7 linked regions of the Homo sapiens genome follow. The protein of the gene in region 4 interacts with the protein of the main gene of each other region in a pairwise test. Each region holds a gene or a part of one and is shown on either strand. Other genes may lie near its edges.

What was found.
Region 1: the proteins of BACH2 (region 4) and ZBTB24 interact in binary tests that used the Homo sapiens proteins (3 or more experiments, as listed by UniProt).
Region 2: the proteins of BACH2 (region 4) and ANKRD55 interact in binary tests that used the Homo sapiens proteins (3 or more experiments, as listed by UniProt).
Region 3: the proteins of BACH2 (region 4) and FARS2 interact in binary tests that used the Homo sapiens proteins (3 or more experiments, as listed by UniProt).
Region 5: the proteins of BACH2 (region 4) and TRIM42 interact in binary tests that used the Homo sapiens proteins (3 or more experiments, as listed by UniProt).
Region 6: the proteins of BACH2 (region 4) and MAFF interact in binary tests that used the Homo sapiens proteins (3 or more experiments, as listed by UniProt).
Region 7: the proteins of BACH2 (region 4) and HMG20A interact in binary tests that used the Homo sapiens proteins (3 or more experiments, as listed by UniProt).

What each region holds. Positions count from the first base shown.
Region 1 is NC_000006.12:109,476,635-109,481,181, forward strand, and holds part of ZBTB24 (zinc finger and BTB domain-containing protein 24), read right to left. Parts: coding exon 4,441-4,547; coding exon of another isoform or gene 4,391-4,440; exon of another isoform or gene 4,315-4,390; intron 297-4,314; coding exon 129-296; intron 1-128. UniProt on the Homo sapiens protein: May be involved in BMP2-induced transcription.
Region 2 is NC_000005.10:56,110,695-56,115,241, forward strand, and holds part of ANKRD55 (ankyrin repeat domain-containing protein 55), read right to left. Parts: intron 1,089-4,547; coding exon 424-1,088; intron 1-423.
Region 3 is NC_000006.12:5,264,214-5,268,760, forward strand, and holds part of FARS2 (phenylalanine--tRNA ligase, mitochondrial), read left to right. Parts: intron 1-776; exon of another isoform or gene 777-865; intron 866-3,228; exon of another isoform or gene 3,229-3,310; intron 3,311-4,547. UniProt on the Homo sapiens protein: Is responsible for the charging of tRNA(Phe) with phenylalanine in mitochondrial translation.
Region 4 is NC_000006.12:89,953,771-89,958,317, reverse strand, and holds part of BACH2 (transcription regulator protein BACH2), read left to right. Parts: intron 1-4,547. UniProt on the Homo sapiens protein: Transcriptional regulator that acts as a repressor or activator. Binds to Maf recognition elements (MARE). Plays an important role in coordinating transcription activation and repression by MAFK.
Region 5 is NC_000003.12:140,697,819-140,702,159, reverse strand, and holds the end of TRIM42 (tripartite motif-containing protein 42), read right to left. Parts: intron 1,745-4,341; coding exon of another isoform or gene 1,646-1,744; exon of another isoform or gene 1,418-1,645; intron 1,273-1,417; coding exon 1,186-1,272; 3' UTR 1,010-1,185; downstream 1-1,009.
Region 6 is NC_000022.11:38,207,781-38,212,327, reverse strand, and holds part of MAFF (transcription factor MafF), read right to left. Parts: intron 1-4,547. UniProt on the Homo sapiens protein: Since they lack a putative transactivation domain, the small Mafs behave as transcriptional repressors when they dimerize among themselves.
Region 7 is NC_000015.10:77,426,950-77,431,496, reverse strand, and holds part of HMG20A (high mobility group protein 20A), read right to left. Parts: intron 1-4,547. UniProt on the Homo sapiens protein: Plays a role in neuronal differentiation as chromatin-associated protein. Acts as inhibitor of HMG20B. Overcomes the repressive effects of the neuronal silencer REST and induces the activation of neuronal-specific genes.

The sequences.
Region 1 (4,547 bases), about 20 Mb from region 4:
ATCCTGTCTTTCAATGACACCACGTTGGAAATGATACTAGGCTGAGAAAACACCATTTAGGTGTTGGTAATGCCCACCCTGGGGAATGGGAATCTGGTGAAGCTGGCCCTCTGGGCAAGCCCCACTACCTGAGTGCAGGCTCATGTGCTCCAGCAGTGAGTGCTTGGTGGTCAGAGCCTTGCTGCACACGGTGCAGGTGTACGGCCGCTCGCCTGTGTGCATCCTGGTGTGGACCTGTAGCGAGTGCTTCTGGGCAAAGCCTTTTCCACACTCATTACATTTGAAAGGTCGCTCCCCTGGAAGAAGAGCCCCAGAAGCATGGTATAAGTAAGAATCCACACATTTTTCTGTCTCTCCCAAATTAAAAAAACAATAAAGGATTTTTCTTAAAAGGCACACATCCAAAAGGCCAACAATGAACACAAGAGACATCAGCAATAAAATTTTGGAAGCTGAACAGATGAATCTGAAGCCAGCAGTGAGTAGCACTAACATAACCTAATTTTTTGTTTTTCCTTTGTAACAGGGTCTCACTCTATCACCCAGGCTGGAGTGCAGTGGCGCTACCATAGCTGACTATAGCCTCAACCTCCTGGGAACAAATGATCTTCCCACTTCAGCCTCCTGAGTAGCTGGGATCACAGGCATGTGCCACCACTACACCCAGCTAATTTTTTAATTGTAATTTTAATTTTTTTTAGAGATGGGATCTCACTATGTTGCCCAGGCAGGTCTCCAACTCCTGGGCTCAAGCAATCTTCCTGCCTCGGCCTCCCAAATTGCTGGGAGTACAGGCATGAGCCACCACACCCAGCCCAATACAACCTAATTTTTAAGACACAATCTCCTAAGGCTCAGGAATTGGTGGCACCTGCTATCTCTGGAAACAGGGGTGAGGGAGGGTAAATGAAAGTCTGTTTCAAAGGTGCTTAGACCCCTGATCAAATCTTCCACTCTACACAGCCAGGAGACTGTCCCTCCCCCAAAAGAGAATGGAGAGTGTTCACTGAGGAGGGTTAAGAAAAAGGGGTCTTTGGATTAGGAGTTTCTAGGCACAGTTGAGTTGGGATCACCACAGGGAGAGTAAGTCAACATTTCCATCTGGGATGATGAGACTCCCCCACTCCTTCTTCCCCATCCTGTCCTAGACACAGGCCAGCAGCCAGGCCTAGTGCCTCCAAGTGGGAGAGCAGAAGCGTCTTCCAGTGGAACATGAGAGGTCCAAGGTGAGAGAGCAAAGATGTGGAAGCCAGGCACCAGTAAGGACATGGGGCACAGCCACACCACCTCCAGTGAGGTTATGACAGGCCTCCATACAACTGTTTCAGTACTGACTGAGTGGTTAAGTTAAACATTAAAAGCCAGTGCCCTTAAACAAAGGCTGGAATGTAACAAAAGCCCACCAAGAGTTTCCCCTAGGCTTCTCCTGGGCCTTAAAGCATGACAAAATAACGAAGGAATTCTTAACAGGGCCCACTTAGGATTAAACAAGTTTTACTGGGGATCTGAAGGAACTCCCCAAATCTCCGTGATTTAGCAGAAGATAAGGGTAATCACCCCAGCACCTAGACCCATTTAGATTAAGTAAACTTACTGAGGCTCCAGAAGAAGGTCTTTGGGACGCAGACCTTGGATATAGATTAAAAGAAGTTAATCACCTACGTCTTTAGAGGAATGCACACTTACAGACAGACATACAGCTTAGGCGGTATATAAGCTCTGAAAAATTCTGTAATTTTGAGTTGGTCTGGCGATAATTTCCAGGCCTTCTCCCTATAACTGGTTACAGAAATAAAAACTCTCTTCCTCTCCAATTCATCTGCATCTCATTATTGGGCCACGAGAAATAGCAGCCTGACTCTCAGTGTGATCTGGGAACAAGGTCACAGTTTTACAGACTCTCTCATACAAAAAAAATTAGCCAGGCATGGTGGTGCGTGCCTGTAATCCCAGCTACTTGGGTGGCTGAGGCAGGAGAATCACTTGAATCCAGGAGGCGGAGGTTGTGGTGATCGGAGATCACGCCATTGCACTCCAGCCTGGGCAACAGCCTAAGAAATAAATAAAATACAGGCTCTCTCCACACATGCAGCATTGCCAGTAGCTTTTAGCAACCCACCCTTACATATGATTTAAAAAAAAAACACCAGGCACTCAAGGAGAGCCTTTTGTAATAGTGACAGACAAACAAGCAAGAAGAAAAAAAAAAGCAACTTGCCTCCAGTGAGGAAAATGTTGTTATCATTAACATGCTCATAGAGGTAAGATAATACATTGTGAAATAAAAAGATCATTCAAATTAAAACATTTAGAAAAAAAAGAGCTCCTAAAGGGGGAAAAAAATAAGAGTTGAAACAGAAAACCTCAAAGGGCTGAAAAACAAAGTGGAAATCCCCCAGAGGGTGGGGCCAAAAATGATGGAAAATATAAGAGAAAATAAAGTTAGAGAGAACAGAGAAAACAGAGAGGAGAAATCATCTATGAAATAACTCAAGATTTTCCAGAACTGAAAGACAGTTTCCAAACCTTATGAATCTACCTGTTATCTACCCAGATGGAAGAAAACAGACCCATACTAAAGTGATGGGCTGCAAAATTCAGAATACAGATGCTTCCTGACTTATGATGGGACTACATCTAACAAACCCATCATACTGAAAATATCATAAGGAAAAATGCACTTATACAGAGTACTGTATGAATGCACCAAATGCAGAGTACTGGTCATTTACCCACGTGACTGTGTGGCCCGGCATGGCATGAGAGGATCATACTGAATATTACTAGACCGGGAAAAGATCAAAACTCAGAATTCAAAGTACAGTTTCTGTTGAACATGTACTGCTTTCACACTATTGTAAAGATGAATTGAACCATTGTGAGTCGGGGACTGTCTGTACTGAGGACATAAGGGAAGAACGATCCTACATGCTTTTTCTTAAGTCTTGTATAATGATTTAACTCTAAACTATGCACATAAAATTTTTGATAAAAATAGCCAGCTGGGCGCAGTGGCGCACGCCTGTAATCCCAGCACTTTGGGAGGCTGAGGCAGGCAGATCACGAGGTCAGGAGTTTGAGACCAGCCTGACCAACATGGTGAAACCCCGTCTCTACTAAAAATACAAAAAATTAGCTGGGCGTGGTGGCGTGTGCCTGTAATCCCAGCTACTCAGGAGGCTGAGGCAGGAGAATCACTTGAACTCGGGAGGCGGAGGTTGCGGTGAGCCGAGATCGCGCCACTGCACTCTAGCCTGGGTGACAGAGCGAGAATCCATCTCAAAAAAAAAAAAAAAAAAAAAAAAAAAGCTAAAATATAACCTATTACAGTTCAACAAATATTTCTCAAGTATCCACTTTGTTCGAAGTACCTGAATTCAAGCTCTTCAACCTATCTGTAGCTAAAGTCTTTAGGGAGCTTTTAAAAGCACCAAGGCTCCAGACAACTAAATCAGAAGCTCTGGGGTGGAGGTCTAGGCACTGGTAGTTTTAGAAGCTCCCTAAGTGATTCCAATTTGCAGGCTGAGAACCACAGCACCAGATACTGCTGGATCACAGGAGAAGACTTAAGCCCCAGTCCCTATACTTAAGATTACAATTAAGTTGAGGGATATACAAGTGGTAACAACAATCTGATCCAAAGCAGAGTGGGTTTTAAGCACCTGAAAGGGCTCAAAGGAGGAAGGGATTTCTCACTAGGACTGCAGTGTCCAATACGGTAGCCACTAGCCACATGTGGTTATTCAAATTTAAATGAATTAAAATAAAATTTAAAATTCAGTTTCTCAGTCACGCTAGCCACAGTTCAAGTGCTCAAAAACCACATGTGGTTACTGGCCACCATATTGGACATCAGAGATGTAGGAACATTTCCATCATCACAGAAGGGTCCCATTGGTCAGCGCTGGGCTAGAGGGACCAAAAATGAGAAGGTATTTAAAGCTAGATAGCTGAGTTACAAAGTGATCTACACAGACTTGGGCAAAAGCATGGTTATGGTCAAGATGAAGAATGTTCAAGAATCAGAAAGCAGGGTACATTGGGCTAGATCTTGATAAGTGGACATTAAAGGATTCATTCAACAACTACAAATGAGAGGGGTTCTTGAACCAGGCTACCTGGGTTCAATCCCAGCTCTGTCACTAACGGGTGACTCTGGCAAGTTATTTAAGCTCCCTAGAACTTGGTTGCTTCATCTGTAAACTATGCACTTTAGCAACCCTCTCTTACATATGAGTAAATATGATTTTAATCATACAATGTATAATGAGGATATTACCCACCTTGCAGGATTGTGGAGAAAATTAACTGCAATAACATGTATAAAGGCTTTATTACAATGCCCATCACACAGAAGTTGCACAGTAAATGGAAGCTATTATTATCATCACTACTCCCAATTCTGCAACACACTGCAATCAGCTTTGAAAACATCATTACCTGTGTGGCTCCTCTGGTGGATTGCTAAAAAGTGATTGTACTTAAAGACCTTGCCACAGTCTTTACAGCGGGCCTCAGGGCCTCCAGGGCGCTTTCTCCTTCCACAG
Region 2 (4,547 bases), on a different chromosome or scaffold from region 4:
TTCCCTGTTCCCTCACCAAGATTTTGGTTCAGTAGGTCTGGGGTGGAGATTGAATGCCTGATTTAAAAACAATCACACAAACAAACTCCTCACAGGTATTTGCCACACACTAGTTAAGAATCCTTGCTAGTGGAAATAGTAATATTCTTGCTCCAATCTGGTACATACCACACATATTTGCTGGGGAGATGAGAAGGCACATATTTGTACTTGATGATTACTTGAAGAGGGGAGAAGCAGAATGTTTTCACAGCTCAGAAATCTCAAATCCAGTGCACTTTGGGAGAAAAGGTGGCTCTAATCACTCATTTTATTCTCACCCTGCCTTCTAGGCTATTGTCACTCCAGTTCCTAGCTTAAAACTGTACGGGACATTTCCAGTATAGAGCCTGCTGAGAATGAACATGAAATCAAGGACATTACCTGATGATGGATTATGTAGATGGCGAAGGTGTGGTGGCACGGAGACCTCTTGGTGACCAGGCCGGACACTGAGCAATCTGTCCAGCAGCTTATCAGAAGAAGACACAGTCCAAACTTTGTAGGAAAATACCTGATTAGAATCACTCTTCCAGGGGTTATCTAGTAACATCTGGCAGCCAGTTCTGTTATTTAATAAATCCTGCTCACTTCGACTTTTCTGAGATCGCTGGGCCATATGATGAGGAGCAGAGCTCAGGCCTGCATGGGAAGTGGCCCTATGGGAGGCTGTTAGGAAGTTATTGCCCAGGGTGATGGGTGGGAGACTCTGCGTTCTGATTGGTGGAAGCCCCTTACGGGCCAGCGGTTTCTTTTCTGGTAAGAGATATTTTGAATTGTCTGAGGTTTTCTTCTTAAATTCAACCATAGCCACCTGATCACCAGGCTGTTCTTGGCAGTTGGTACCCACGATGCTATCAAAGGTGGTGATGATGTCATTGACTTCTGAGGTGTCCTCCTCTCTGTATCGGTCCCTGCTGGGATCCTTCTGATGGGCTCTCTGCTCTTCTTTCTTGTTTTTGCAGAATATTTGGTTGAGCACGTTGAACCGTCTCTCCTTCTTCTGGGGCCGACTGCTCTGGGAGGGAGGGGGTCGAGTAGGCTCTGTTCTATGCGAATATAAAAGAGCAGGGATGATATGTGAGTATGGGAAGTAGAGACATCACTCACCGAAATACCGACCCCCTATTCCACATGCTTCATCAGGTTTTCTGAGATCCTTCCTAGATACCTCCAAAGCCTTCTCAAGTTAAAGGCAGTGTGAAGAACTCACAGTACCCCTGGCAATCCCGCCCAGAAGAGGCTCTTTACCATGGGCAGTCTTTGCCCAAGGAGGACGTTTCTTAGATTTTTCTTGCTCCTTCAGGGGATATCCTTTCAAAATTTACACCTAGATCATCTGTTTTCAACAAGAGGTTAACTAAACTGAAAATTAGCTGAAAGTGTTGTTCTCACATCTCAAGGACAGTCAGTAGGCACGCAAGTTGAAGTCAGAGATGAAGCCTAAGGGTTTGAGTTCAGGCTTCAATGAGCAGAAGGATGGAGGAGGTTGCTGAGGTGGGGGGAATGTGGTTTTAGGCTTTCTCTGACAGAGATCCTAGAAAACCTGGACCGAGTGCTGACCGACTGACATTATCCCCCTCAGAGACCCCTCCCCATTTTAAACTAAAACTTTCCTATCGAAAAGTACTTTTAAAAAAAGTATGCTGAAGAACAGGTACGGTGGCTAATGCCTATAATTCCAGAACTTTGGGAGGCTGAGGCAGGAGGATCACTTGATGTCAAGAGTTTGAGACCAGCCTGGGCAACATGGCAGGATCTCATCTCTAGCAAAAAAAAAAAAAAAAAACAACCAAGGAAAGAAGCTTTAGTCTGGGCTCCAGCGAGGGAAGAGGAGGAGTGCATGACCAAGGTCGGGCGTGGCTGCAGAAGAAAGTGAGCAATGCCCAATGCGCAGGCAAATTATAAAGGAAAAAGGCCAGCAGTTGTCGAGAGGTTCCCTGAGGCAAGATTCTGTTTGTGTTCCTTAGAAAATTCTGTGTGATTCTCTTTTGAGGCTCCAATTGACTTAATGCTTTCTGCGGTATGAATTAACGATGAAACCTGACCCGTGTGTGTGCCCCTGAGTCAGATTGCAACACTACTTTCTGGAGTGAGATATCGCAATCTGCAATTTGAAAAACATCACCACTTATTTTGGATGCATATAATGAATGTTTTCTCTACAGGTCACACAGTGCATCCTTTGAATTTTTATTCCATGATGTAGTCTTATCTTTATTCTTTCACCTTCCAATGGGCTTTTTGAAATACTGAATTCTAGACTCCTAATACCACCAGAGAGAGAGCCCCAGGGCACTTCCGACGCTCAAGTTTCCCTATAAAGAATATGTCTGTGTGAATTGATGCTATTGCAGCATCTTGTGTAAGCCATCTCCTCCTCCTGTTACAGCTTGTGCTTTAGGCCTCTGGGTCTCAAAATGGGGTCCACTGAACCCTTGGAGAGGGATCCCCGACTTTTTAAGGGGTTTATGGCATTAAACTCTATTCATAATAACATCACAACGTTATTTGTCTTTTTCACTGTGCTGCCTTGCATCGATGGTGCAATAGAGGTGGTGGGTAAAATGGTGGCTGCCTCAGTACAAATCAGGACAATAGTGGCATCAATGTACTTGCAGAAAAAAAAAGTCCTTTAACTTAATAATGTCCTTGTTTAGGGAGTACAAGTTATTAATTTGATTAAATATTAACTTGAGTACACTTGTTTGACAAAATAAGAAGCACTCGTAAGCAATTCTACTATATACGGAGGTGTGATGATTGTCTTGGGGTAAAGCAGCTGTGCAATTGTTTGAGTCGCGGGCTGAACCGGACACTTTTTTCACGGAACACCATTTTTATGCCTTGCAGACAAACTGTGGTTATGTAGAGCTAAGTATTTGCAGAAATTTCTGCAAAATAAATAAAGTGAAATACACAGAAACAGAGAGTAAAACAGTGATTACCAGAAGTGAGGGTGAGGTGGGGGAATGGGAGGTGTAGGTCGAAGGGTACAAAGTTGCAGTTGAGTTCAAGTATTTCTCGTGCTTCAGCCTCCCAAGTGTCTGGGATTACAGGTGCATGCCACCACGCCCAGCTAATTTTGGTATTTTCAGTAGAGATGGGGTTTTGCCATCTTGGCTAGGCTAGTCTTGAACTCCTGGGCTCAAGTGATCCACCCACCTTGGCTTCCCAAAGTGTGGAGGTTACAGGCGTGAGTCACTGCGCTCGACCCATCTGACTAGGTATATTTATATCAAAATATGTATACTATATATATATATATATATATATATATATACAATAAAAATATATTAAAATGAATAAAGTGGGCCAGGCGTGGTGGCTCACGCCTGTAATCCCAGCACTTTGGGAGGCCGAGGCGGGTGGATTACCTGAGGTTGGGAATTAGAGACTAGCCTGACCAACATGGAGAAAACCTGTCTCTACTAAAAATACAAAATTAGCCAGGGGTAGTAGCACATGCCTGTAATCCCAGCCACTCTGGAGGCCGAGACAGGAGAATCACTTGAACCTGGGAGGCAGAGGTTTCGGTGAGCCGAGATCGTGCCATTGTACTCCAGCCTGGGCAACAAGAGCGAAACTCCATCTCAAAATAAATAAACAAATAAATAAAATAAAACGAATACAGTGAATATTTCATTTCAAGATAAATAACTGACAGTTATTGTAGCCAATGACAAAAGTCTAGCTTTCAAGCAAAAACTAGAATTTTGGAAAACTTATATTCACATTGTAAGCTTGACACCATCTCAGTATATAAAGCTTGTCCAATAGATTGGTGGTGATGTTAACAAATGTGACTTTTTGATATTGTATAATGAAATGTGTCATCTGGAAGATCTTTATAATTAAGTGAACCAATATTTTCCAAATGACCAATGCAAGGTGTTAATAAAATCACGCATGTGTATAAGACCCATTTAAAGTATAAGGTATAGTAATGTATTCTAATGTGACAGAGTACAAAAAATTCATTGATATGGTGAGAATCCACATTGCAATTAACCTTTAAGAAACTGCTGCTTGTTAAGTTTTGGTATCGTATCAAAGAAAAATACACACAATTATCTGAAAAGCCTATTGAGATACACCTGCCTTTTCCAACTACGTATTTATATAAGGCTGGATCGTTTTTATATACATCAATCAAAACATGATACTGTGGCTGGGTATGATGGCTCACACTTCTAATCCCAGCACTTCAGGAGGCTAAGGTGGGAGGACTGCTTGAGGCCAGGAGTTTGAGACCAGCCTGGGTAGCATAGTGAGGCCATCTCTACAAAAAAATAAAAAACCAAAAAACAAGAAAACCCAGCTGGGCATGGTGGCACATGCCTAAAGTCCCAGCTACTCAGGAGGTTGAGGTGAGGGGATCGTTTGAGCCCAAGAGTTCAAGGTTGCAGTAAGCCATGATTATGCCACTGCACACCAGCCTGGATGACAAGTGAGACTCTGGTTCTAAAAATAATAATAATAATAAATAAATAAATAAATAAATAAGC
Region 3 (4,547 bases), about 85 Mb from region 4:
TGTAGCCTGGGCAACAGAGTGAGACCCTGTCTACCAAAAAGAAAAAACAACAACAACAACAAAAAGAAATTATTCTATTCTACACCACACATGAATCCAAGTATTATACATTGATCCTTCATTTTAATAGAACACGAAGGGGAAGGGGGAAGACCTTAGATATCAACTCATTCATTTGTACAGATGAACAAACTGAAGACTTTTTCCTCATTCGTTCATTCCTTCAGCATTTATTGAACACTTCCTAAGTACTATAGGTTATGGTTTTTCTTTTCTTTTTTCTTTTTTTTTTTTTTTGAGACAGAGTTTCACTCTTGTTTCTCAGGCTGGAGTGCAATGGTGCAATCTCGTCCGGCTAATTTTTTGTATTTTTAGTAGAGATGGAGTTTCACCATGTTGTCCAGGCTTTTCTTGAACTCCTGACCTCAGGTGATCCAGCTGCCTTGGCCTCCCAAAGTGTGGGGATTACAGGCGTGAGCCACCGCGCCCGGCCCATAAGTACCATATATTATATAAGATGATATAGTCACAGTGATGAGAGCTTCCCCACCCCTAAGAAACTTGTAGGTGACTAGATAAGCGAAACAATAATTTATTTTATAGAGACAGGGTCTCTGTTTACTAAGCTGGAGTGCAGTAGTGCTATCATATCTCGTTGTAACTTCAAACTCCCGTGCTGAAGTGATTTTCCTGCCTCAGCCTCCTGAGTAGCTAGGCCTATAGGCTCATGCCACCATGCCTGGCAGATTTTTAAGTGTTTTTTTTTTTTTTTGTAGAGATGAGATTTCACTATGATGTCCAGGGTGGTCTCAAACTCCTCAGTGCCTCTCCTGTCTTGGCTTCCCAAAGAGCTCAGATTATAGCTGTGAGTCGTGGCACTTGGCCAATAATTTCTTTTTGACAGTTGCTGCGATATGAGTAATATTAGTAAACGCTAAAGGAATAGGGAAGAGGAATATTGAACCAGGAGTTTCACCTATGGGAAGGCTTTCCATCGTAGAAGGTGTTTCCAGAATGAGAAGTAAAAGCCAGATGAGGAATGTGGTTAAAGATTGCAGTGTATATCCAAGCATGGAGGAAGAAGGGTGCTTGATCTATTTAGAGAACTCTTAAGTGTTTTAGAATGGTAGGAGGTGGGAAGGGAGGGACCACTGAAGTGTTTAGCCCTGTACTAGCTTTATTTTAGTGATGTTTTCTCTCTGTCTGGAATAAATCATTTCTTCCCTTATGCATTGGCTGAGTTATATAAGTAGAACTTAACAGCTGAGCTGTTGAAATGGAGATTATTTATTCAGGTACTGATAACCTTTTGTTTCAAATCATGACTTTGAATCCTATATTCCAGAGGCACTGAAATGTTATTTATTTACCTGTGCATTCAAGAGATAGCTGGCAGCCTAGCAATTTAAGTTACTGTTGTTGTGGTAACTTGAGGGCGATATATAAATCAAACACTGATCCTGTTTTCCAGAAGTTTATACTTTAAATGCATTTGTATATGATTAAAATAAGGTATTAGGTTGGTGAAAGTAGCTGCAGTTTTGACCGTTACTTTTAAGGGTGAAAACAGCAATAACTTTTCTACCATCCTGTACAAAGGGCTGCTGAAGCGTTGTGGGGTCTCAGTGCAAGGAGAGGTCACTTCATCCCTGATGCTTGGGCCACACCTCAGACCAACAGCAGTGCTAAGGCCCAGGCTTCAGATAATTTTGTTTAATTTTTTTTTAAAATTCTCTCCATGATTGGGTAGAGCCAGGGCTGAGAAACATTGACCTGAAGGAATTAGGGGGCTTCATGGAGGAGGTAGTGTTTGTGTTGGGCTTGAGAGGATTTAAGTTTCTCCTGGGCCTTGAAAGGAATTGAAGGATTTAAATGTTTGAATGTGGTGGTAAGATGGCTACTGTAGGTGGAAGATGACTCACCCTTTACCTTGAAAGGATGAAGGAGAAACCCTGATTGAGGTCTAAGAAAAAACAATCATGACCTGCGGAAGGCTTTGGCCAGAGCTGTAGAGTGCATGAGGGTGAGAACGGGGAGATCCCGTGAAAAGGTAATACATCGGCTTTCATATGTTTTAGGCATGAGATGAGCTGAATCCTGATATGATTTGAGTTAGTCTTCCCATGACCTGATGGAAGAGCTGTTATCTCCATTTAAGAAAAGTGAAGCTGCCCAGGTGTGGTGGCTCACATCTGTAATCCCAGCACTGTGGGAGGCTGAGGCAGGAGGATCACTTGAGCTTGGGAGTTTGAGGCCAGCCTGGGTAACATAGCGAGACCCCATCTCAATAAAATAGAATAAAAAAAAGAAAAAAAAATGAAGCTGAGAGTTTATTTAGCCAGGGTCACACAGCTGGAAAGTAGCTAGTGTGGACCTTGGCCTGAGATGTGATCTGTCTAGCTATGATACAACACTGCTTCACAGATAAAGTACCAGCTTCAGGAATTGGAAGGTTATTGATTTTTCTTGGATAACATGGGTACATTTCAGTCATATTTGAATTTTAATTTAGTTGGATTCTCACTTATTTGTAAAGCTAACCGGTTTGTATTGGAAATATTATAAATATTCTGGGAATCTCAAATGTTGATTTTATACTAGCTTTTTAGTTATTTAAGATAAATTTACATTTTATTCTATTAACATCTCTTTGAAAAGACGTAGTGCTTTTTTAGGTTGTCTATTTATGTGTGTATGTGAGACATTTCCTCTTGGGGGATTCTCTGAGACTCACATTTCTGTAGAAGCTTTTTTCAGATATACTTATGAAAATCTGTTCTCTGTTTTGAGAAATCTTGAAAGCTATGATATGTTGCAACTAGACACTCTAGCTTCATTGATTGGAGGCTAAGGGTTCCCGTATTTGTGGGCAGTAACAACAAAATTGACAATTTATTTTGTGTAAAGTATTTCAAATGTCAGTTATTTCTAGAGGTTTTTTTTCTTAAAAAAAAAAAACTCATTAATTCTTTTCATTGTAAAGGAAAGAAACCATCTTTTCATGCTACAAACCCCGACCACCATGAGAATTCTTTTACAGTGTGATTTGTTGTAATCTGTTATAGATCACTTTCATTCTTTCTTTCTTGCTGCATATGAGGGACCAGTATTTTAGGAATAATGTTTTCATATTGTCTGGATATTTTAGGATGATTTGTTAATCAAACTAGCTACAGCTTATTGTAATGATAGCTATTATTTATTTAGAGTTTGTTTTCTCTCTTCTAGGAGCTTTGCCATGAAAAGAACAGTCCAGGCCAGGCGTGGTGGCTCACACCTGTAATCCCAGCACTTTGGGAGGCCCAGGCAGGTGAATCACGAGGTCAGGAGATGGAGACCATCCTGGCTAACACAGTGAAAACCCGTCTCTACTAAAAAAATACAAAAAAAATTAGCCGGATGTGGTGGTGGGTGCCTGTAGTCCCAGCTACTCGAGAGGCTGAGGCAGGAGAATGGCATGAAGTTGGGAGGTGGAGCTTGTAGTGAGCTGAGATCGCACCACTGCACTCCAGCTTGGGAGACACAGCGAGACTGTCTCAAAAAAAAAAAAAAAAAAATCGCCACACTGTCTTCCACAATGGTTGAACTAGTTTACACTCCCACCAACAGTGTAAAAGTATTCCTGTTTCTCCACATCCTCTCCAGCACCTTTTGTTTCCTGACTTTTTAATGATCGCCATTCTAACTGGTGTGAGATGGTATCTCATTGTGGTTTTGATTTGCATTTCTCTGATGGCCAGTGATGATGAGCATTTTTTCATGTGTTTTTTGGCTGCATAAATGTCTTCTTTTGAGAAGTGTCTGTTCATATCCTTCGCCCACTTTTTGATGGGGTTGTTTGATTTTTTTCTTGTAAATTTGTTTAAGTTCTTTGTAGATTCTGGATATTAGCCCTTTGTCAGATGGATAGATTGCAAAAATTTTCTCCCATTCTGTAGGTTGCCTGTTCACTCTGATGGTAGTTTCTTTTGCTGTGCAGAAGCTCTTTAGTTTAATTAGATCCCATTTGTCAATTTTGGCTTTTGTTGCCATTGCTTTTGGTGTTTTAGACACGAAGTCCTTGCCCATGCCTATGTCCTGAATGGTATTGCCTAGGTTTTCTTCTAGGGTTTTTATGGTTTTAGGTCTAACATTTAAGTCTTTAATCCATCTCACATTAATTTTTGTATAAGGTGTAAGGAAGGGATCCAGTTTCAGCTTCTACATATGGCTAGCCAGTTTTCCCAGCACCATTTATTAAATAGGGAATCCTTTCCCCATTTCTTATTTTTGTCAGGTTTGTTAAAGATCAGATGGTTGTAGATGTGTGGTATTATTTCTGAGGGCTCTGTTCTGTTCCGTTGATCTATATCTCTGTTTTGGTAACAGTACCATGCTGTTTTGGTTATTGTAGCCTGGTAGTATAGTTTGAAGTCAGGTAGCGTGATGCCTCTAGCTTTGTTCTTTTTGCTTAGGATTGACTTGGCAATGCGGGCTCTTTTTTGGGTCATATGAACTTTAAAGTAGTTTTTTCCAATTCTGTGAAGAAAGTCATTGGTAGCTTGATG
Region 4 (4,547 bases):
TGCCTAGCACATCGTTGGAGAATGAAAAAATGAGTATGGATGGACACAGTGGCTCATGCCTGTAATCCCAGCACTTTGAGAGGCTGAGGCAGGAAAATGGCTTGAGCCCAGGAGTTCGAGGCCAGCCTGGACAACATAGTGAGACCTCATCTCTAAAAAATAAAATAAAATTAGTAAACAAAAAAATTATAAGTGACTGAATGATCAGATAGAGTCTCAGGAGTAAAACTTACAAATAGGGGAAGGATTTTTACATTATGGCTGCAGATCCAAGTTCAAACCTGCACAGGAGAGAAAAGACACTCCGTTTATGTTTTAAGACATATTCACTAAGACAAATAATGATTTTCTTTAGCTAAAAGAACCACCATATGAAATGATATATGTATAAATCAATTTCAATGTTGATTTAGTTTTTATATTATTACCTTAGGAATAGAACACAAAATAAGCTCTATCTAAAATTCATAATAAAATTGCCCAGGCACAATGGCTAACACTTGTAATCCCAATACTTTGGGAGGTCAAAATAGACGGATTGCTTGAGTCCAGGAGTTTGAGACCACCTGGGCAACATAGTGAAACCCCGTCTCTACTAAAAATACAAAAATTAGCTGGGCATAGTGGTATATGCCGATAGTCCCAGCTATTCAAGAGGCTGAGTTGGGAGAATCACCTGAGCCCCAAAGGTTGAGGCTGCAGTAAGTGGCAAGATCATGCCACTGCACTCCAGCCTGGACAACCAGTATGAGACCCTGTCAGTAAATAAATAAATAAAATTAATACGAGGCCAGATGTGGTGGCTTACACCTGTAATTCTAGTACTTTGGGAGGCTGAGGCAGGAGGATCCCTTGAGCCCAGGAGTTCAAGACAAGCCTGGGCAACATAGGGAGACCCTGTCTGTAAAAATAGATAAAATAAAAATTAATACTAAAATAACCAGAAGCTTTGTTGAAATAGTAAGGTGAATTAATTTGACAAATACTTTCTAAATGTCTAGCATGCTGCTTTGGAAGAAGAATGTGATAATGTGGATATGAATTATAGAAAATTAAGATGAGGAGTGATGCCTGATCACTAAGTCAGTTTTCATCCTGCAGAGTGGGTTGCAGTGCAGTAAGAGAGTGGGAAGGGAGAGTTAATTGTCACCAGCATTGCTTTCATCATTTGACAAGTGCCTTGCTGTGCAAATACAACCCAGAGGGGTTGTCAGTGGTCTAGCGTTTTAAAAAGCCCTTGGGCAGGGGTTCATTACCTTTATCTTCCTGGTTCCTGCAGTGTGTAAGAGATTCAGCTTCATCAGGAAAGTGTACATGGTGTTGCTGAAGATGTAAGTTTCCCTTTTTTGTGAAGTTGTGATTAAGGGACCTTGAGAAGCGTGCCAGCCCTCTCCCAGGGAGCAGTCACCTGTCCTCCGGATTCATCTGATCAGCCTTCTGCAGATGGGCTCAATGCTACAGCCATGTGTATATACTGCCAAAACCAACTGGAGACACCTTAGTCATGTAGCTTATATAGAGAATGATGTTCCAAGTCTCAAAAATCCTCAAACCCTATTTTCAATAAATGCCTGAAGGCTGACTGCCTCATCCCTATCATAGTCCAGAGATGGAACTGTTGTAAGTATCCTCATAAACTCTGTCCTGCAGCAAAATGGATGTCTCATGAAACACTGAGCTCCCCAAAACACTGAGCTCCCCAAAACACTGAGCTCCCCAGCTTTGCAAACAGTGCCCAAACTTTCTCTACAAATTGAGTTTTCATCAGCCCATCTTCCTTTCAGCAGAGAGATGATATGTTAGAATCCAATGTAATGAAGGATTAAGGGTCATAGTTACAGTGGGTCAAATTTCAACACATTGTCAGCATGTTGACTTGCACCATCGGACACGGTACCCTGGCCTTATTTCTTTCAGGGTTGAACCAACTATGTGCCAACTGCTAGCTGAGGTCATCACCTCCTAGGAAGCAGTCTGTGGGAGGTTGGAGGGTTAACTTTCTGCCTTCTCCGAGGTCTCGCCCCCACATGGCACACTGTATTCTGGCCCCAATGTGTGATCCCATCTCATCTGTATCAGAATGAGTATTGCACAGTATGAGACCAGGTAGTTACATATTTAAGTGCAATGAAAAAATGTTCTTCGAAATGAGGCATTCAAAATATTTTCATTCAAAATGCAAGACTGTTATCCCAAGTTGTCCCTAACACCATATTTTGCATTTGTTTCTCATACCTTGAGGCCACTGCTGACCAGTGGATTTTAGTCTAGATGGGTCTGCTTAGAGCAGAGGGATGCAACTCCATTAACATCAGTGAGTTGGAACTATTCTTCTATTTATAGCCACTTCATTCCATTTTAACTTTATGATCATTACTTTTTAAAATACCATTTTATGAGTTGTTAGTTTTGCGTGTAATTCTCCACCTCCCACCCCCCTCTTATTTTTTCCCATTATTAGAGCCTTATTTGTTAAGAACAAAAAGTAAGTAACAATGCAGACTTGTGGTCACAGTTTCATGAACATACAGCTTTTCACTGGTACCTGAATATTTGCCTTCTGAGTATAATGAATGAATTTAAATGGTCCCTAAAAATGGGTAGACAGTGCCACCTTCTCAAGATGGAGGCTAAGCCAGTATTTAGAAAGCCTCTGCCTGTTGTAACACTTGCTGGCAGGTGTGATGGGCACTTGCTTTCTGTTTTGTGTATCTGGAGCGATTACCACTGCCGAAAGTAGACCAGAGATGGGTTCCTGGGAGGGACCCTTGTGACAGTTCCGAAAGTAGCCATCGTATCAAAGCAACCCTTGACCTAGAGCAGACACTCAAGGCGTGCTGATAAAAGTGTTCAAGGGGCCCCCTTGCTAGTCCCCTCAGCCTCAGTAGTCTCCTATCCTGAACTTGTCTGGATTTCTCAGTTGACAACTACTCATATAATCTTGCAATGGCTTTTCCATTGTTGACTTGCTTACATTGTTACTTAGTTAACTTTTCATCATTTGTACCTCTTCTACAAAGCTAAATCTTAGATCTCTTGAGCACAGGCCTGAGTCCTACACATATCCTTCCCTCACACCACTAGCACAGAAGAAGAAACAGACTGGACTTGGTTTGGAATCCTAGCTCTCCACTGACTAGCACTGACCATGGATAAACTCCTTCACCTCCCTGCTTCATAGTTTCCTTATCTACAGAATAAGGGCAGTCATGCCTGCCTTGCAGGGTGTTACAAGAGCACAGTGCTGGGCACTAGGAGATACTTGGTAAATGGTCATTCTGGCTCACCAAACAAAGCCTCACACACAGAAGCTGAGCAAAATCTTGCAGACTTAAATATGACAAAGCAGGACTGAAACCAGAATGGGAGAAGAGCTAGTTATGAGCTCTTGAACTTTCATGGTGAGGACACCATTTCCTCTGCCCTTGGGCTTAAGTGACAGTTTACAAACCAGATTTTTTATCTATGACTCTTTCATGACCATATGACGATCATTTCAAGCTCAGGAAGTTTCCTAAGCCTCAGTGATCTAAGGAGTGCCATTGATTTGTGATGTGGAGACTTTGCTCATTCACCTCCTTGGTCCAATTCATACATTTAAGCATCAGCTCGTCCCTGAGCGGAGATGCTTTCTCCAGCTCCTTGCAGCCATGTGGCAGAGGGTGACTCCCAGTACTGCTTCCTGATCTACAGATCCCCATGGATGTCCCTGGCTTCTTTAGAAATTTTCTTTACAAGAGGCCACAGTGGAAGATAGTGGTAAGACTTACTTAGACCTACAGCATCAAAAAAAAAAAAAATGGTGATAAGGATGGGAGTATGAGAAAAACTGTGTGAACACTCTGGGGACTGTTGTGGGGTGGGGGGAGGGGGGAGGGATAGCATTAGGAGATATACCTAATGCTAAATGACTAGTTAATGGGTGCAGCACACCAGCATGACACATGTGTACATATGTAACCTGCACATTATGCACATGTACCCTAAAACTTAAAGCATAATAATAATAAAAAAAAAAAGAAAAACTGTGTGAACAGTATAAATAGCATTGAAATTAGTTTCCTACATTTCCCATATAGTGAGCACCTTTGCCAAAACTCAAGAAGTGTCTTATCCACCCTTTTGGCAACTGGCACATTACAGAGGAGCATAGGATCATTACGAGGGCAGGGGTCAACTCTGCATTGATTTCACCATTTCTTTCTTTGTGGTGGAGCCATGTGGCAGTAAAGGAATAGGTCATGTGACATTCTTGTCATCTTCTTCAGTTACCTATAAATACACATTTCCTTGCTTTTTTACTTTCTTTTAAAGATTCTTGGAAGAAAAGGACATAAAACAGATGTATTGTCAGTACTACATTTGCTGAACCTATTACCATGTCAGCTTAGCAGGATACAAAAGTGTCGGTCAGACCTCCTTTTTAATACTGGTACTGTGACACGGGGCAAACAAAGACCCTTGCCTGCCTGCCTTTGATCAGTTGATCGGTTCAGTTAGTTGGTTTACATGATGCCTTGCTCCAAAAGTAACTTGAGACAACACTC
Region 5 (4,341 bases), on a different chromosome or scaffold from region 4:
TTTTCATGGACAGTCCCAGTTATGTGTGTAAACCTTCATTGTGCAAACTGGCACCTGGGGATGTTCAGAGGAGAGTCATTCTATGTGTCTGCCTTTCAGCTGTGGTGTGTCCCTCCTGGTACTAACATGTAATGTGTGCCTCACTGTCCCAAGCACTGAGGATAGAAGATGAATGAGACACCATCTCTGCTCTAAGACTCAGGACAAATGAGTCCTAAGTATCACAGGGCTGGAATGGGTGTCTTTATGGGAAATAGGGGTGGGACAGGTGGTCCCTGTGCTTAGTGGGGATGCAGGGGAGAAAGATGTTGTCATCATAATTTGGAGGATCACTGGGGAAAGTGGTTGAGCTGAGTCTTGAAAGACAGGTGGTGCTTTCTGGGAAGAAATGGCGTGGGGTTCAGTAGAGGGTCATTTCTGGCAGATAGGGCCTTGTATGACAAGAAATTCTAGGGACTTCATATTGTCTGAAAGGCCAAGCTAAGTTCAGTGAGGTTGGAGCTGATACATGATTTTGTCATTCTTCCATGCCTTGCTTCAAATGACCATAGAGGATCCTCTAACCAGGCATTCTACCGTTCTTCCTTTGCTATGTCCAGAAGGAGAAGAGGGAGGGCTCTCATTCTTTATGGCTTAGAGGTAGACCTCAGACCATGGGCTGAAAGTTGTGAAAAGGCAAATTCAAGTTCAATAATTAGGAAAAACATTTTAATGTTGGCTCCTTAAAATAGACTACATGGTGAGGTAATGAATTCCGTGGCAATCAGCGACTTGCCCAAGCATTCAAAGCTAGTTAGGCCAGCATTAGAATGCACACCTACGGGGTCCCGACTGCAAAATACAGTGTTCTTTTTACCACCTAGAAGCTGGGTGTTGCTCCTACAAAACACCACAGAATTCTGAGCCTAGGACTAGACCTGAGCAGCTGGAAATATACAGACTTGCTGAGTGCCTTGCTTATTACTGTCATCATAACAAATAGTTGTCATTGAACAAACAGCAAGCCATGTCAGGTATTTCCTTTTATTAGCTCTTACAAGATTCCTGTTGGAAAGCTGAGAGGTCATGGAAACATTTGTCTACAACCTCCTTGAAGAATGTGGTGAGAAAAATATACATACATATATGTGTGTGTATATGTCTACTTTGTGATGAGTCTGAGGTTGTTTCCTGCTCTGAAGGGGCTCAGAAGTGCTTCTGGAGGGCAGACTGGATATTCTTCAGCAGGCCCCACTTAGCTCGGTTCTTCCCATGTCCATCTGGTGTTACCACCTGCAATCAGAAGCGAAGAGTCATGACACCCAATAGACAACAGCTCCCAGTAGCCTGGGCCCTTCTGCATGTCAGACACTACACACATCATTTCATTAACTCCTCACGACCACCACAGTGGCTGTTGGTGCCACTTTATAGATGAAGAAGCTGAGGCTCAGAAGGACCAGGAAGGTTTCCCAAAGCCCCACAGCTATAGTGTCCTGGGATTGTGATTCCATAGGCCAGATCCTACTTCCCTTTAGGGTAGCTCATGTGACTAAGTGCTGATGACAGTGATGGGGCTGGACCGCAGGTGAGCTTCACCATAGAGGATCCTCTGTATCCTTCCTCAGCCATTAGAACTTGGTTCTGTCACAGCTTTTATCAGTTGTTAAGTTTCAGCTAATGCATTTGACTTTCTTACCAGACCATGAGCACCTTGATTGGGGTGTGGGGGAAATGATAGTCTTTCATCTCTGTGGTCCCAACACTAGTTATGGAAAAGAGAAGATTCTTAGAGAAGTATATGAACAGTGAATAGAACTATAATATAATATAATTTGTAAATCTGCCAGTTGTTTTCCTTTGATGCTAGCAGAAACACTTCATACTATCTTTAATTACAGTGAATGGCCAGTGCTACCTGAAAAAGAAAGACTGTACTGGGCACGAGGGGTAAGAAGAACCCTCCTAGAAATCTCACCAAGTTAGCTTAGATGTTGCCCTCCATGCCTTACCTTGAAGATACTGGGTTTCTTCACTACTGTGGTCTGGCAGCATTCCCATTCCTTCCCCCCAAATAAATATTTATGGAGTGAGGTCGAGACCCAGGGATGAAAGACAGTCCACTGGATCAATGGGCTCTGCTGAGGTGAATGAGGACTTGAGATAGAATGGGGGTGGGGTTTGTATGGTGAAGAGGAATGTTTATACAGGGCACAAAGTCTCTATGTACAAAGCTTTTAACCTTCTATATTTGTATATAAAGGGAAAGGGCAAAAACAAAGAAGCCAGACCCTTATTAGCATTATGCTCTCTACTTTTACAAAATTTTTGGTTTTAGAGAAGACAGGGCTGCATGCAAGGCAAAGGTCATATTATATACATGATATTAGATTATCCATTGCTGAGTAGAAATGGAAATAATGCATAGAGATAACCCTGATAAAAGTAGTATAAATAATGTCCAAGATACACACAGAGTTATCAGAGGGCATGAGGAAGATGGAACGGTGTTACGAGGTGTTAGGAATTAACTCATAAATAGGAGATTGAGTTTTTGCTTTAAAATATAGTCAGAATCTTCAAAGATAAAGACTGTATGTGATATGTGAATGGAGCAGTGAGGATTGAGGTGTGTCTATGAAAAAAGGGAATCAGGTAGAAAGAAGGACAGAAGAAACAGAAAAACAAAACTTGGAATATTAAAGAAATTGAAATGATAGTTGACATCTCTTCCCTGCCCCAAATGCCCCAGGCTCATATTGCTTTCCAGATGAATTCTACCAAACTCTTAAGAGTTATTCTAGAAAATAGAAGAGCAAAAAGTTTCCCAGCTCTTTTTATGAAGGTTGTGAAATATTGATTCCAGAACCAGATAAAAACAATATAAGCAAAAAATTGAGCCCAATTCCCTTATAATTATAGATGCAATAAACCAAAATAAAATACGAGCTAACTGAAGTAAACTGTATTAAAAAGTAATACATCATGAACACACAGGATTTATTCCATGAATGGAAGTGGAATTTAGTATCAGAAAAATCAGTCAATGTAATTCACTTCATTAATAATGGCCTGAAGGAGAAAAATCATGTAATTACCTCAAATAATGCAAAAAATTTAATAAGTACCTATTTCTCAGAAACCTAGAAGTAATTTTCCTTAACTTAATAAGGATTATATACCATAAAAACTAAATAAAAAATAACTCAATGGAGAAACGTTAATATCAGGAATAAGACAAGGATATCTACTAACACTGCCACAATTTTATGTATGACTCAAGGTTCTGGCCAAAGCCATAAGGAAAGAAAAAAGAAATAGAATTGTGAGAATTGTAAGTAAACAGATAAAACCATCATTCTTTATAGGAGATAGGATCATATGCCTGGGAAAACAAGCAGAAATAGCAGATTGGGTCTCAGAATAGTAAGGAGAGTTTCTGACATTGCTGGAATCAAGATTACCCTACAAACAGAAATAGTCTTTATTCTAAACCAGTAATCTATTAGAAAATATAATAAAATAACTTTCATAATATCAACAGTCTGTAAACTATTTGGTTTATTTATTTATGGTATGCAACATGATGTTTTGACATATGTATACAAAGTAAAATAATTACTACAGGCAGGCAAATTAGCATACCCACCATCTCACAGTTATCTTTTTTTGTGTGTGTGAAAAGAACACCTAAAATCTTAACAAATTTTCTATCAATACAATATTATTAACTGTAGCCCTCATGCTGTACGTTAGATCTCTAAATGATCTAGTTTAACCAGGAATATGTGCACCTATGTAGGAAAACTTAAACACCCCAGTAAAGAACATAGACTATGGTTTGAGTAAATGTTCAAACATATTACAAAAATACCATTTGTTTCCAAATTAATTTAGAAACACAATGCCTTCTGAATAAATTCTATCTGAATGTTTTCTAAGAATTCAAGTTACTCCAAAATGTATATGAAGAAATAAATTTCTATGATTAGCTAAATAATTTCTGAAAAAGAAAGAAGGATAATGGGCATACTTACCGTAGCAGTTCATAAAGACATGGCAGAAAGCTGAGGTTCAAAAATAATAAAACAAGTATGGTATTGATATAAGAGCAGAAATATAGACCCATGGCATGTAATAGAGTCCTCAGAGACATACCCCTAAATATATGGAAACTGAATATAAAAGTGGCATTTCTGGCCAGGCGCGGTGGCTCATGCCTGTAATCCCAGCACTTTGGGAGGCTGAGGCCGGCAGATCACGAGGTCAGGAGATAGAGACCATACTGGCTAACACGGTGAAATCCCGTGTCTACTAAAAATACAAAAATTTAGCCGGGCGTGGTGGCGGGCGCCTGTAGTC
Region 6 (4,547 bases), on a different chromosome or scaffold from region 4:
AGAAGCCAAGGAAAATAAAGGAAGATAGGCTGGGCGCGGTGGCTCACGCCTGTAATCCCAGCACTTTAGGAGGCTGAGACGGGCAGATCACCTCAGTTCAGGAGTTCAAGACCAGCCTGGCCAACATGGCAAAACCCTGTCTCTACCAAAAACACAAAAATTAGCCCAGGCGTGGTGGTGCATGCCTGTAGTCCCAGCTATTTGAGAGGCTGAGGCAGGAGAATTGCTTAAACCTGGGAGGTGGAGGTTACAGTGAGCCGAGATTGCGCCACTGCACTCCAGCCTGGGAGCCTGGGTGACAGAGTGAGACTCCATCTCAAAAAAAATAAATAAATAAAAAGAAAACAAAGGAAGATGCTTTGTGATCTGAGCTGTAGCATCCTATAAACACGTACCGTATCGGAAAGAGCATCACCCAGTTTTGTGGACAGCAGAGGGCAAAAGCCAGATCCAAGTCCTGGTTCCTTGAGCTGTCTACAGGGTTGACCTCACGGGTTGGCTCAGCCTCTGACACATTCTGGCAGGACCGGGGTGTCTCCCAGGGACAAGGTGCAGAAATGGAAAGCACATGGACCTTGGTGCCAGACACACCTGGGGCCTTTTGGGGGTGGTCTCGCTCTCTAGTTGTGTGGTTCTGATAGGTCAGCCACTCTTTCTGTGCCTCACTTTCCCCCTGGGTGACACAGGTAGCTGTGTTAAGTCAGCTCATGTCACACCTCTCTCAGGACCTTCCCACGGCTCACTGGAGTAAAGCCAGAGTTGTCACCATGGCCCACAAAGTGCTGCAGAAAGTGATCCCCAGTGGCCGGGCGCGGTGGCTCACGCCTGTAATCCCAGCACTTTGGGAGGCCAAGGCGGGTGGATCATGAGGTCAGGAGATCGAGACCAGCCTGGCCAACATGGTGAAACCCCGTCTCTACTAAAAATACGAAAATTAGCCGGGCGTGGTGGCACGTGCCTGTAGTCCCAGCTACTTGGGAGGCTGAGACAAAAGAATCGCTTGAACCCGGGAGGCGGAGGTTGCAGTGAGCCAAGATTGTGCCACTGCACTCCAGCCTGGGCGAGAGTGAGACTCCGTCTGAAAAAAAAAAAAAAAAGAAAGTGCTCCCCAGCATCCCTTCTCCAACCTCAGCCCTACTTGGCTTCCTTTTGTTTCCCCTGCCTCAGCCACACCCGCCCTTCCTCAACACAGGATGCACGCTCCTCTCCAGGGCCTTTGCACTGGCTGGTCCCTCTGCTGGCGTTTTTGTTTTTGTTTTTGTTTTTTATACAGGGTCTCACTCACTCCGTTACAGGCTGGAGTGCAGTGACACGATCACAGCTCATTGCAGCCTCAAACTCCCAGGCTCAAGTGGTCCTCCTACCTCAGCCTCCCTAGTAGCTGGAACTATAGGTGCATGCCACCACACCTGGCCAATTTTTGTACTTTTTGTACAGACAGAGTTTCATCATGTTGCCCAGGCTGGTCTTGAACTCCTTGGCTCAAGCGATCCGCCTGCCTCCGCCTCCCAAAGTGTTGGGATTATAGGCATGAGCCACGACGCATGGCCTCTGTTGGCATCCTTGTTCCCTAGATATCCACAAAGTTTGCTCCATCACCTCCTGAGGTCTCTTCAAATCTCATGTTCACTCAGTTTAGAATTTGCAACCCCTGATACACACACGGACACACACACACACACACACACACACACACACACACACTCCCTGTGTCCCTTCCCCACCTCAGGTTTCCCCATGTGTAATTGTCATCACTCACATATATGGTGGTTATTTGTTCAGTGTCTGTCCCTCCCAACCCCCCGATTAGAATGCCAGCTCCATGAGGGCAGAACTTATACCTGATTCACCGCGGCCTCCCCCATGCCTAGAACCGCGCCTGGCACCTCGCAGATACTCAAGGAATCCTTGCTGAGTTCTCAGTGTGACTCAGGCCAAGGTGGGGACAGTCCAGGGCTTCTCAGGAAACTCCCCAGCTCCTCCCAGCCCACACAGTCAGGGGGTCTGGCAGCTCACAGGGAAGGAAGGAGTGGGACAGAAGGAAGTTGGCGCTTGCAGAGATCCCCTGACAGGGGCAGCCACTGTGGCCCTTAAGCAGGAGAGTCTTAGGGGTCACCCAGGTTTCGCTGGGGGTAGCTGGGTGGACCCAGAGTGCCAGGTCAGGACCCAGGCAGCTTTAGACCCCTGTGCGGATCCACGGTGAAGACCAGTGGCTTCATGGGGTGACCCCTGAGCTGCGACCCCCCACTGCTGAACATGCCGGCTTAGCCTGGGCTCTGGCCTCAGTTTCCCTGCCTAGCACTCCAAATCCTAGGGGGCTCAGGCCCTGGCTGCCCACCTAGCTCTCCTTGGGGGCCTCTGTGCACTCCCATCCTACCTGGAAAAGTCATATGAGATCTGCTGGCTACCCTGACCTTTCAGATACTATCTGGAGACGTTTACATGTCAACCTCACCGATCCTACCTTTCAATGCAGGCCTTTTTTTTTTCCCTTTTTTTTTTTTTTTTTTTTTTGAGATGGAGTCTCGCTCTGTCGCCCAGGCTGGAGTGCAGTGACAGGATCTCAGCTCACTGCAACCTCCGCCTCCTGGGTTCAAGCGATTAGCTCTGCCTCAGCCTCCTGAATAGCTGGGACTACAGGCGCCTACCACCACGCCCAGCTAATTTTTGTATTTTTAGTAGAGACAGAGTTTCACCATATTGGTCAGGCTGGTCTCGAACTCCTAACCTCAGGTGATCCACCTGCCTCGGCCTCCTGAAGTGCCGGGATTACAGGTGTGAGCCACCACGCCCAACCCAATGCAGGCCTCTTAAGTGGTCACCCTCACCACCCTACACACACCTGGGGAGGTCCCAGCACACCTCCCTGCTGGTCTCAGCTCATTCCCACACAGCAGCTGGACAATCTTTGCACCACGCGAATCTGACCATGCCACCAGCCAGATTAAAGCCTTCCATGGTTCGGCTGGGCAAGGTGGCTCATGCCTATAATCCCAGCACTTTAGGAGGCTGAGGCGGGCGGATCACAAGGTAAGGAGATTGAGACCATCCTGGCTAACATGGTGAAACCCCGTCTCTACTAAAAAATACAAAAAATTAGCCGGGTGTGGTGGCAGGCACCTGTAGTCCCAGCTATCAGGAGGCTGAGGCAGGAGAATGGCGTGAACCCGGGAGGTGAAGCATGCAGTGAGCCGAGATCGCGACACTGCACTCCAGCCTGGGCGACAGAGTGATACTCCATCTCAAAAACAAACACAAAAACAAACAAGCAAACAAAAAAAAAACCTTCCATGGTTCCCTACTATCCTAAGGATGGAGTCCAGACCCACCCTCCCAGCACCCCAGGCCCTGTGTGTCCAGCCCCACGCCCATTTCCCACCACTGCCACCTCCACTCTGTGCTCCAGCCACACAGAATTTCTTTCACTTCCTCCCACCCGCGCTTTCTTGCCTCTGAGCCACCTCCCACCCCATGATATTTCTCTCCCCTCACTCCCCTCTACTTTGTTTGGCAGACTCCTACTCATCCTTCGGCCCTGGGTGCAGACATCTCCTCCTCCAGGAAGCCCTCCCTGATCCCTAGGACTTGTTAGGGACCCCCACCCCTGTGTGTAATGGGTTGTATTTCCTTGCTGTCTCTCCACCAGACAGGGAGAGGCTGAGTCAGCTCTGGGTGCTTGAGGCCACCCATCTCAAGACCTGGCAGGGAGCAGGCACTGGGGAAGGGTGGATGGTCAGAGTCTCTGACGCCATCACCCAGCTTGTCACCAAGCCGGGTTCCAAGCCGAAACGTAGTTCAGTACCTCCTGGCCCTGTCTCTAATTCTTCCTCCTCTCCAGCTGCTTCCTTGGGCCTGTTGGCAGAGACAGTACAGATGCTAGGCGAATGGGAAGAGAGCAGAGGGGATCCCATCCACGTGACTTTGGGCCCAAAGGTGGGGTGTGGGAAACAGGGAAAGGAGCACTGGATTGGGAGTCAAGCTTGGGTTTAAGTCGCATCTCTGTTTTCTCAGGCTGTGTGACCTGGGGTGAGCCACTCCATCTCTCTGGGTCTCCACTTTCCCATCTAAAGGATCGGAACAATACCTGCCTCGCAGGGTTTTGGTGGAATCAAGTGGTATACACTGTAGAGGTCAGTGAGCAGCTGGGAGGTTAGAATTGCTGTCTGTCCAGGAGGGGTCAGGCCTGTAGCCAGCACTGGGGTCTCGCTCTGATTTAGCATCTCCCAGCTGGCTGGGGTCACACAGGGAACTGCAGGAAAGGCCCTTAGAGGCCATCAGGTCCTGCCTCCTCCCTTTACCCAAGGGGAGGTAGAGACCCAGAGAGGGGCAGCACTTGCCTGAAGTCACACAATAGGTGTGAATGAATAGCTGCAAAGGCCCAGGACTGAAACCTGGTCCCTTCACACCGTCACCTCCCTGGTTCGCCCAACCCTGAGGTAATGCCCAGAGAGGACAATAGAGTAGTCCAGGCTCATACAGCCAGCATGGGGTAGAATTCAGGCCTGAGAGTTCAAGACCAACCTGGGCAAGATGGCTAGACTCCATCT
Region 7 (4,547 bases), on a different chromosome or scaffold from region 4:
CTCATGCCTGTAATTCTAGCACTTTGGAAGGCCAAGGCAGGCAAATCACCTGAGGTCAGGACTTCGAGACCAGCCTGGCCAACATGGTGAAACCTTGTCTCTACTAAAAATACAAAAATTAGCTGGGTGTGGTGGCATGCACCTGTAATCCCAGCTACTTGGAAGGCTGAGGCAGGAGAATCGCTTGAACACAGGAGGCAAAGGTTGCAGTGAGCTGAGATCACGCCACTGCATTCCAGCCTGGGTGACAGAGGGAGACTCCATCTCAAAATAAAATAAAATAAAATAAAAAATAAATAAACCAAGTAGGTAAAAGCAAAAAAACAAACAAAAAAGTTACATTGTATTGTTTTCTGGCCCCCATTATTTCTGTTGACAAGTCAGATGTCAGTCTAATTGTTCCTTTGAAGATTATGTGTCTTTTTTCCTCTGGTTACTTTCAACAGTTTTATTTTTACTATGAAGAATGAAAGTGTGGTACTCCTTGTATTTATTCTGCTTGTCGTTTCTTGCACTTTTCAAATCCATGGCTTGATATTTGTCATCGGTTTTAGAAAATTCTCAATCACTGTCTCTTAAAATATTACTGCTTCTAACTTTCTCTCCTCCAGTCATATGTATGTTAGACTTCTTCATCATTTCCTCATGTCTCTGTAATAGTTTCATATTGTTGCTGTCACAAGTTATCCAAAGCTATTGGCTTAAAGCAATACAAATTAACTTTCTTACAGTTCTAGACTCTGCCTAGCAAACACTGTGAGGGGAAAACAAGTTTTAAAAAAGTTTCTGGGTACTGTCCTTCTCTAGGGATCTTGACCCAAGAACTAGCTACCTGGAGATCTCTAAAATCCAAGTTTTGTCTGCTCCGCCCCATAAAACTAACAGCTTCTCTGCTTTTAGAAGAAACCCTCTGCTAAGTTTCACAGCATCTTGTCATGCTCTAAGAATTAGCAAATTCCTAGGAAAAAAGAGAAGCATGGAACATCAGCCCACTTCTCTGAAGCTCCTTTGGTTCTATGGTTGTGGTTTCTTAAGTCCTGGATGCCTCAGCAGGTCTCTGATGCCTTCACTTTTCTTTTTAATTCTCATCTTTCCTGTTCTTAGCAAAAGCATTAGTCTGCAGCAACCTCATCTCTCAGAGTCATAAGTGGAAACCATAGCTTGGGCTCTGAATAAAAACTCTACTGCTTATTAGTTAAGTGATTCGGCAAGTTATTTAACCTAGAGTATTTAAACATTTGAAGTTTCAATTTTCTTTCATGTAAAATGAACGTTAACACTATCTAATGAGGTTACTGTGAGGATGTGAAGATTAAATGAGACATATTTATAAAATGTCTGATAACAAAAACATTCTTATTGTAGGTTTTGTATGTGCCAAATACTTTATATAGATTTAATAATTTAATGTAGACATAGTTATCCTCCATTTCCTTTTCAAGACCACATATTAGTAAGTGATGAAGCTCAGATTTGATTCTAGAACACCAGTTTTCAATAACTACAAATTGTTGCTTCTATAATGTTGCTTGAGTATTGTTCCTGACACAAGTAAGTGGTCAGTAAATGTAAATTATTATTATATAGAAAATATAAATGCTTCAGAAATAGACACCAATCACATTAGTTTTTCTACTTTTTCTTCTGATGTTTCTCCTTTTCATTTTTGCAAAAACATTCTTACAACATCTTTCAATGTATTCTTAAAGACGCTATTGTGAAAAATGAATGTCTTACAGCCCACTGAGTAGATAGGCAATAATTTGCTTAGGCATTATTATATTGTTGAATATTTAGAAGGTTTCAAGTTTTAGACAGTATAGATATCAGTGCTATTAACATTTTGTGCCTTTAACTATTTTTCTTATTTAAAGTATTTTCTCAGAATGAAGTTCTATATGTGGAATTATTGGCTCAAAAGTATGAACATTTTATTATTTGTTGATATAACTGCTACTGTTATTAAGCCAAAAAGTTATGATAATTATGATGCCATCAAGCAACAAACATGAAGGTTTGTATCAAGAGAACAGGAATTAAAGCTATGAAGTATAGGAATGAAGGACATGTGGACATGGGGGAAAAAAAGGAGATATGAATTTTGAGGCTGGAAAAGAAAAAATGGGGTGCTGGAAATCATTTCTTTTGAAGCAGGCAAGCGCTAGTAATCCCAGCTACTTGGGAGGCTGAGGCAGGAGAATTGCATGAGCTCACTAGCGCCACTGCACTCCAGCCTGGGAGACAGAGCAAGACTCCGTCTCAAAAAAACAAAAAAAACAAAAAAACCCACCATATTAAATTATTATTATTTTGTTTAGTAGAGATGGGGTCTTGCTATGTTGCCTGTGTTAGTCTCAAACTCCTGGCCTCAAGCAATCCTCCTGTCTCAGCCTCCCAAAGTGTTGAGATTATAGATACAAACCACTGTGCCCGGCCAACATATTATTTAAAAATTATACATATAAATTGCAAAACAACCACACAGATTAAAGGCCTATGTTCTAGAGGCTCCCCCCTCCTTTTTTTTTTTTTTTGAGACAGAGTCTTGCTCTGTAGCCCAGGTTGGAGTGCAGTGGCTCGATAACAGCTCACAGCCTTGAACTCCTGGGCTTATGCGATCCTCTGGCCTCAGCCTCCTGAGTAGCTATGACCACATGTGTATATACCACCATGTCTGGCTATTTTTTATTTTTTTGTAGAGACAGCATCTCACTATGTTACCCAAGCCGGTCCCAAACTCCTGAGCTAAGGCGATCCTTCTGCCTTGGCTTCCCAAAGTGTTGGGATTACAGAAGCCACCACACCCAGCCTAGAGTCCACTTATTTGGTGTGTAATCTCGAGCCTTGAATTGCCTTATCTATAAATTGGGATTAAATTTTATAATATCCGACTAAAGCCAGAATTGGAACATCGTATCTCTTGTTTTATATTCCTGATATTAAATTTGTTTTGTGAGTATACCATACTTCAATAAAAATGAAGGAATCTCTCCTTTTTTGCTGATATGCTTTGAATGTCTTACACGCTATGCTTTGAATATCTTATCTTGTGATGAATATCCTGTTAAGAATCTTATGTCAGACTTTAAGTTACTATTTTAAAAGGTTACTTTACTTTGTGGGATTCTCTGAAGGCCAAGCCATTTGCCTGCTCTTTCTACAATCACATAAATCTTACTGGGTATACCCAAAGGCCGTTGCTTTTCTACAGCTGCCTTCCTCCTTCTTTGTTACCATCACAGATTTTGGGGTAGTAGGTACCTGATCATCAGGGAGAACACAGAAGGCCTTGAAAATGTGGGTTTAACCATACCAAGATCTTTCGCTCTGTTTATGTACTATAGCCTCCCCAGTAAAAACAAAACAAAACAACAAACAACATCTCTGCTAAATGCTTCATTATGAACACAGGTAAGTCAGTGCTTGATTGTCCCAAGTTCCAGTTCAGATTTTCCACTTTCCATTATCCTCCAGTAAATTTTAGTAGTGATACTGAGGGATCATGCAGTATGAGAATAAACACTGGCCTTAGAGGATCTGCATTCAAATCCTGTCTCTACCACTTACTGGTTAAGTGATTTTGGGCAAGTAATCTAATCTTTCTAAATCTTATTTTTCTCATATGGAAAAATGCCAAATTATTAGAATTAAGATAACATGTAGTGCCTAGCACAATACTACATAAATGTTAGTCAAGTGGGAATTGGAATTATGGCTCAGTGTGGTCTGAATCTGAATATTATTCAGAAAATAAGGACAGCAGCACTGAATAAAATTTTTTTTTGAGCTGAATAAAATTAGAGAATTTTGATTTCTAGGATCCTCAAAAATCCATATCCTTTAAAGAAGCCATATGGGGTAACATGTATAAGGGTCCTGAATTCCTTCATGTTCCAACAGATCCAGGTTCCAAGGTATGGAAACACTTATCAGATTATAAGCAAAGAGAACAATAATTTTATGTGTGTTCAACTAGCCAAATATTTTTGCTGGTAAAATCGTGGTGAAAACAACATCCTTATACATTGCTGTTATCATTAAAAATCAGTACAATCTTTTAGGGAAATGTAGGTATCATATCTAGAACTACCCATGCTTGTAGAACCATTAATCACACTCATAAGATTTTATCTTCAGAAAAAAAGTCAAATAAGGAAAATAGCTATAGTTTTATTTAATAGTGCCTGGCACATAAAAGGCACTCAAATATTTCTTCAAATGAATACCTTTATTTGTACTGACTTCTCCAAATCACTGCCCTTGGTTCCTTCTCATTAAGATTTATCTATTTTTATTACCTGAGGAGAGCTTTAGAATCAAATTCTAACATCTTTGTCTAGTCTCTATTCTCCCATCTTCCCCAGTAACTTTGTTTTGATTGCTACTAGACTCCTTACCTTAGAATACTCCCACTCTTTAAACTCAGCTGACCGTAACACAGAAACCAAAAAGACCATATACCACATCCTTGACCTAATCAAGAAGAAATCTGAAGCTTCCTTCAAGGTCATAAGATGTTTTTCTCCTTTGTTAATACCTCTGTAGTC